Linked DNA regions of Homo sapiens. Changing the gene in region 2 together with the main gene of any one other region gives a genetic interaction. Each region holds a gene or a part of one and is shown on either strand. Other genes may lie near its edges.

Region 1 (3,500 bases), on a different chromosome or scaffold from region 2:
TCCTCAGAATGGAATTGGATTAGTGACAGACTTGAGCAGCCGGTTCAGTCGAGAGAGAACTTAATTCCTCCTGTGTTATTCACACGGCTGATTCTAATCAGATGTGAAGAGACAGCTGGAGGAGAGCAGCGGGTCAGCCCATGCCTGGTGCGGAGGCTTCATGTTCTTGTAGGCATCTTCAGGGAACTGGCAGGAGCGCTTTGGGTTGGAGACTCTGAGCAGGGCCCTTGGGTTTATAGCCTGCCCAAGGAACTGGGCCTGGCTGCGGGACTCCCATGGTTGGACCTTGTCTAGATTCAGTGAAAGTTTTGAAGGACAGTGCATGACAGACGTCACTGGTCAGGTTCACCAGAGCTTGGCTCACTTGTCTTCAGAAGGATTCAAAGGCAGTTGACCAGACTTGGCAAGTCCCAGACTGGTGCAGCCACTGTCCTCGAGACCCTGGTTGTACACCCTGAGGTGCTTCTGCTTCATTACCTGCTGAAATTTGGAGACCTCTTCTTCCTGGATAACCTTCAAGATACTCATTGTGCATGCGAGGAATTCCCCGCCCTCCTGGGGGGACTCCACTCCCCAGGCAGGCAAGGTTGGGCAAGGGGAGGGCTGTTGCTGGATTGCCAAAGGGAGCATGGACATTTTTGTTTGGAATTCAGGGTGGGAATGGGACTCACCAGAGTGGCTTCAGTGCTCAACTCACAGTGCAACATAGGACAAGGTGAAGGCCTTCTTGGGAGGCCTCTTCTGGCTCTAGCAAGCAGGTGTTGCTGGGCAGTGTAGAGGGACCCAGGCCGGTTGCTGAGCAGGAAGATGTACCTAACACTGATGGGCCTGCACACCTTAGGGTATGAGAGCATCGCAGGGGAACCAGGAAACTTGTTAGCTGGTTTTCATGTGTTTAAAAAGAAGACTCGGAGGCAGAGTTTATTTTATGAAGGGCTAGCTTTTTGCCATTTCTTCTGAGCTTTTGCCTTTTCCTTTATGAATACTTCCTGCCTATGGGTGTACTGTAAATGTAACAGCCAGTGAGCTTTCTAGAAGCAGCAGATGGTGAAAGATCCACAGGTGAGGAGCCTGCCCACTGGAGGGGCGAGACAGTGCCCAGGCAGGGCGTGCAGGTGGCAGAGCTGTTTGCATGCTCCGCGGGGTGGCTTCCCAAGCTCTCTGTAGAAAAACTGCCTGAGGGCAAATGGCTCCACTGAGCTGCTACCTGCAGGAAAGAAGCTCAAGGGCTCTCCTCGTCTCACTGCCTGCCTTCTTCACCTGCTGGGAGGAGGGCATTGTGGTGTCTGAGATAAAGGATACCCCCAAGGTGGAAGCAGAGCCATGGGGGTGGCCTCCAGCAGCAGGGAGGAGCATTGTGCAGTAAATTCTGACTCCGGGGCTCCTGTGGGGATTGGAACCCATAGGAATTGCACAATGAGGGTAAAGGATGGGGCGGCAGCAGCCAGGTCTGTCTAAGGGGCGAGCAGCAGTGGCCGAAGGCTCCCAGGGCCCTCGGGCAGCAGCCCTTGCTGACCAGTGCAGCCAGGTCGTGGCTGCCTCCAGCTGGTGGGTCTGCCTTCCCCTCTGACCGCCTCAGTGCCTTCTGGAGGACTGTGGCTCTCTCTCCTGCCCAGTGGCTGTGGTGCCTTCCTACTTCTGTGTGGGCAGACTGATTTCCCTCTCTACCTTTACTTGTGGCTGAGGCGAAGCTCCTGCTCTTGCAAGATAAGAGGTGGGGCTGAGGCGCTGCAGTGCAGCTCAGGTGGGGCTCAGGAAGCACCCCACCCACCCCAGAGCACTCTGCATCCTAATAAGCACATGCTCGAGTCACTGGAATCTGGTGCTGCTGGCAGTGCCAGAACCCTCCCCTAGCACCTCGAGGGGACAGCCAGCATGCTCCTCGGGTGGAGGATCCAGGAATTCTTGGAGCCAACATTGCACAAATGGGCAGGAGCCTCTCAAGGCCCCCACAGCCTGGGCTCCCTGCCTGGGGAAGTGGCCAGGCTTCATAGGGGCATCACTTGGCCCGCCTGGTAGGCATGGAGGCCAGTGCCATACGTGACCTTGTTGTTGCCTGCACCCCTTCCTAACGAGCACCCTGCTCCCCACTGGAAGGAGAGGGGCCAGGGCTCCTCCCTCCCCAGGGAGGGGAGAAACGTGATGTTGCTATTAGCAATAACAGCTGCCGAGTTCCCACCATGCGCCAGGTGCAGTGTTGAGTGCATCACACGCGGTTCCCAATTCCTCTGCCTGTCACCCCACGAGGAAGGGGCTGCCATCACGCCCGCTTCACAGTGAGGAACTGAGGCTAGAGGGGAGCAAGTGACCTGCCCAGGGCCACACAGCTGGTCAGTGGCCCAGCTGGGCCTTGCACCAGGCAGCTGACTGTGCCTGTATCTGACTCAAAGTGGCTGTTCTTTTCAGAAACCTGAGCGGAGATACTGGGCTCACATGCTTTCATTTAAACCCTCTCTCATTTTTGCCCCAGTAGTTATCTGGCAGCTAAATCTCTTCCTCCTTTCTTCCCCAGTGACCATTCTGGTTCCCATCATCACAGGGCACATAACTCCTGGCCCTTCTCCTCTGATTACATTTAGGGAGAAGCCCATCCTGATGCAGCTCCCTTCTAGAGGGAGTTCCATTTAGGCAAAAAAGCGCTCTCCATTCCCATCAGAACCGGGCTTTCCAAAGGGCTCTGAAATTGGTTCCACTGAAGAAGGCAGCTGAGCTGCCTCCCCACATTCCGCTTGTTAGTCGGGAACTTCAAGGCCAAAAGATTTGGCAGGATTTAAAGAGTTGCTCTCAAGCTGTCTCATTCTGAGCACACTAATGCTGTCTGTCTTCTGATGGTGAAGTGGTGGGTTTGGAGTCTCCCTCCCCTGCCCTTTATGGAGCCGCCGATAGTACCGAGGACTCTTCACATGCAGACTCGAGGGGTCCAGAGAATGGGCCAGACCATCTTGCCTGCCCCATGGCAACCTCCAGAGGAAAGAGGCTCAGAGAGGTCAGGGGTGTCTGCAGTGAGCTGCTGATGGCAGAGAGTGAGCTCTCGGACCTTCTCAGCCGGGTGTGGAGCTCTTGCCTCTCCCGCGAACCTCAGTTTAGTTATCTTCATAGCCCACGTCCTGGTCGCTTAACAAACATTGAGCTCCTGATCGGCACATAACACTAAGCCAGATATTTGGGGGATATGAAGATGAATGGTACAGACTCCCTCCCCTCCACCCCCGCACTCCTGTGGGAAGTCCCGGAGCTGGAAATGGAACACAGTCACACCCAAGGCATTGATTTCAGGAGTCAGCAGAGAGCAGGGAGTAGGGAGAGTGCTGGCTCCAGATGCTTCTATCCAGGGAGATGCTGGGAAGTGGCCCAGAGTCAAGGGCTTAGGAGGTTGCAAACCTCACTATGCCAAGAGCTCGGTCCCTGATCCACCCCATCCCCTTCCACATCTCCCTGACTGTCCTTCTTTACATTTGCTGGGCAGAGTGCCACCTGTGTGCACCAGCCCTCCCTGCCTG
Region 2 (4,021 bases):
GAATGAGATTTTGGAAGCTGATACTGTTGACATGGCTACTACAAAAGATCCTGCTACAGTTGATGTCTCTGGAACTGGCAGACCTTCCCCTCAAAATGAAGGATGTACATCTAAACTGGAAATGCCACTGGAGAGCAAATGTACATCATTTCCCCAGGCTTTATGTGTCCAGTGGAAAAATGCTTATGCTCTCTGTTGGTTAGACTGTATCCTGTCAGCTTTGGTGCACTCGGAAGAGTTAAAGAACACCGTGACTGGACTGTGCTCGAAGGAGGAATCTATATTCTGGCGGTTGCTTACAAAATATAATCAAGCAAATACACTTCTATATACCAGTCAATTGAGTGGTGTTAAAGGTTGGTACTAATATTTTATTTTTATTTACTTATTTATTCATCTGGAGTCAGGGTCTCATTCTGTCACCCAGGCTGGAGTGCAGTGGCATGATCATGTCTCCTTGCAGCCTTGACTTCCCTGGCTCAGGTGGGCCTCCCACCTCAGTCTCCCAAGTAGCTGGAACTACAGTCGTGCACCACCATAGCCAGCTAAGATAGTGAGATGGTGGCCCCACTGTCTTGCCCAGGCTGGACTCGATTTCCTGGGTGCAAGCACCCTTCCCGCCTCAGCCTCCCAAAGTGCTGGGATTACAGGCATGAGTCACCATTCCAGCCTACTTGTCTTTAATTCTTAAAAATATTAATGTTGAGTTTTGTCTCCCAGCATGTGGGAAAGATGTCATCCATTGCTTCTGTTTCCTGGAGGCCTGGGAGCAAGGAGCCCAGGAACAGTATCACGAAGCTTGAGATAATACCAGTTACATTATCCTGACTGCCCAAAAGGCAGTTTTTTTGTTTTTTTTTTTTATACTTTAAGTTCTGGGGTACATGTGCAGAACGTGCAGTTTTGTTACATAGGTATACGTGTGCCATGGTGGTTTGTTGCACCCATCAACCCGTCACCTATATTAGGTATTTCTCCTAATGCTGTCCTTCCCCAACCCCTCCATTCCCCATCAGGCCCCAGTGTGTGATGTTCCCCTCCCTGTGTCCATGTGTTCTCATTGTTCAACTGTCACTTATGAGTGAGAATATATGGTGTTTGGTTTTTTGTTCTTGTGTTAGTTTGCTGAGAATGATGGTTTCCAGCTTTATCCATGTCCCTGCAAAGGACATGAACTCATCCTTTTTTATGGCTGCATAGTATTCTATGGTGTATATGTGCCACATTTTCTTTATCCAGTCTATCATTGATGGGCATTTGGGTTGGTTCCAAGTCTTTGCTATTGTGATTTTTTTTTTTTTTTTTTTTTTTTTAAGACAGAGCCTCACTCTGTTGCCCAGGCTGGAGTGCGATGGCATGATCTCAGCTCACTGCAACCTCCGCCTCTCAGGTTCAAGCAATTCTTCTGCCTCAGCCTCCCAAGTAGCTGGGACTACAGGCGCCCACCACCAGGCCCAGCTAATTTTTGTATTTTTAGTAGAGACAGGGTTTCACCATGTTGGTCAGGCTGGTCTTGAACTCCAGACCTCATGATCTGCCTGCCTTGGCCTCCCAAAGTGCTGAAATTACAGGTGTGAGCCACCATACCTGGCCTAGGCAGTCTTTTTCAAAACTCTAAGACTGTGCTTGTGTCTCAGGGTGTCAGGATAATAGTGGTTAGTTTTAAGTGTTTAAACTACTGAAAAGCAGAATGAAGAAGTGAGTAAAAATCACCCATAATCACACAACCTCCTAAGATCTCTTGGCACAATAAGGGATATGTTTTTCATTTTATTCTCTGTAAAATAGGATACTTATGAACCCACCTCCCAACACAGGAAGAATTAAAACATTCCCAATAACTTACATTTACCTATGCGTTTCCTCCCATCCCATTCTCTACCTCCCCCCCATAAGTAATCATTATCTGAAATGTGTTTCATCATTCCATCTTTTCTTAGTTTTTCTTACATGTGTTTATCTAAACAGTATACAGTAGTCTCCCCTTATTGTAGTTGTACTTTTCTTGGTTTCATTTAACCCGAGGTCTGAAAGTAGATGAGTATAGTACAGTAATATATTTTGAGAGAGAGGGAGACCACATTCACATAACTTTCATTACAGCATATTGTTATAATTGTTGTATTTTATTATTAGTTTTAATCTTACTATGCCTAATTATAAAACTTGATCATAGGTATGTAGTTATAGGAAAAAGCATAATATATAAAATGTTTAGTTACTATCCAAGGTTTTAGGCATCCACTGGGGTCTTGGAAGGTATCCCTCTCAGATAATGGGGGATGGATGGTACTGAACCCTGTATATACAATGTTTTTCCCTATACATACATAATTATGATCAAGTTTAATTAAGAGTAAATTAAATGTGGGCCAGGTGCAGTGGCTCACATCTGTAATCCCAGCACTTTAGGAAGCTGAAGCGGGCAGATCTCATGAGGTCAAGAGTTCGAGACCAGCCTGGCCAACATGGTGAAACCCCATCTCTACTAAAAAATACAAAAATTGGCTGGCTATGGTGGCACACGCCTGTAGTCACAGCTACTCTGGGAGGTTGAGGCAGGAGAATTGCTTGAACCCAGGAGGTGGAAGTTGAACAATCACTTGAACCTGGGATCACGCCACTGCACTCCAACCTGCCTGGGTGATAGAATGAGACTCTGTCTCAAAAAAAAAAAAAAAAAAAAAAAAGTAAAGTAAATGTGGCTCAACATGTTGCTGTCAGTTGGAACATTTGTTTCTGATCGTGTCTTCCACCCACAAATTGAATGCTTTTTCCATCTTAACACTTATCAGGCACTGTGGCCATAACTTGAGCAGTTGAGATGCAACAGCAAAATTAGCACAAATTTCTTTTTCTTTCTTCGCAGTTTCATGGATAAGAGATTTGTTCTTAGATCTCAGCAACCTCAGCATATGATTTTTTTCTTTAAGTTGAGAACTTTGACCTTTTTACTTAGAGAAGCATTTTACAGCTTCTCTTTGGCATATCTGAATTGCCAGCATTACTATGCTCGTGCTTTGGGGCCATTATTAAGTCAAATAAGGGTTGCTTGAACACAAGCACTGCAATACCATGGCAATAGATCGCATCACCAAGATGGCTGCTAAGTGAACCACAGGCAGGAGTGTAGACAGCATGGACACATTAGACGAAGGGAAGATTCACGTTGCCAGTGGAACACAGCAGGACAGCAAGAGAGTTCATGATGCTACTCAGAATGGCATGAAATTTAAAGCTTATAAATTGTTTCTGGAATTTTCCGCTTAATATTTTCAGACCACGGTTGAGTTCAGGTAACTGAAACCATAGGAAGCAAAACACGGATGAAGAGGGACCACTTCGTATTGCCTAATTTAGTTTGTTTTGATCTTCTGGGACCTTTTTTTCTTGTTGTAAAAATTTATGGGGCTGTTTATAGTTGTGGCTCATTGATTTTTCATTGCTACATAATACTTCCATTTTGTAAATATAACAGAATATTCATCTACCTGTCAGTGGACAGTGGGGTTTTTTTGCCATTATAAATGCTGCTGCTGTGACCATTTGGGGGGCAAGTCTCCTGGGGCACAGTATGAGTTTCCCTTCTGTATAACAAAGGAATGGAAAATTATAGACTTTCGTGTCCAAATTTACAAGATAATGACAATTGTTTTCCAAAGTGGTTGTACCAAGCAATTCTCCCATTAATAGTGTATATAAGAGGTCTTCCTGATCCATATATTCTTCTTGGTTTATTTTCACACTTTTGAGATTTTTGCTATTTGAGTGGTATAAAATGGTCTGTGATCTTGATTTGCCGTTTCCACATTTTGAAGAGGTTGTCGGCTCTATGTGTATATATTGCTCATATTTGTTCCCTCTTCTGTGAAATGCCTTTTGTATCTTATCCCTATTTGTTCTGTTCTGTTGATTGTCACGTTTTAATTGATTTGTATGAGTTTGTTCCTTGTATCATTGTTGCTAGAGTTACATCAGATGTGTTGCTGAATCTGCTCCCAGTTTGCAGCTTGTGTTTTTA

Evidence for each region.
Region 1: changes in USPL1 (region 2) and NF2 together harm fitness more than expected from each alone (negative genetic interaction), as found in Homo sapiens cells (one large-scale study listed by BioGRID).

Annotation. Positions count from the first base shown.
Region 1 is NC_000022.11:29,690,633-29,694,132, forward strand, and holds part of NF2 (merlin), read left to right. Parts: intron 1-3,500. UniProt on the Homo sapiens protein: Probable regulator of the Hippo/SWH (Sav/Wts/Hpo) signaling pathway, a signaling pathway that plays a pivotal role in tumor suppression by restricting proliferation and promoting apoptosis.
Region 2 is NC_000013.11:30,631,119-30,635,139, forward strand, and holds part of USPL1 (SUMO-specific isopeptidase USPL1), read left to right. Parts: coding exon 1-356; intron 357-3,096; exon of another isoform or gene 3,097-3,296; intron 3,297-4,021. UniProt on the Homo sapiens protein: SUMO-specific isopeptidase involved in protein desumoylation. Specifically binds SUMO proteins with a higher affinity for SUMO2 and SUMO3 which it cleaves more efficiently. Also able to process full-length SUMO proteins to their mature forms.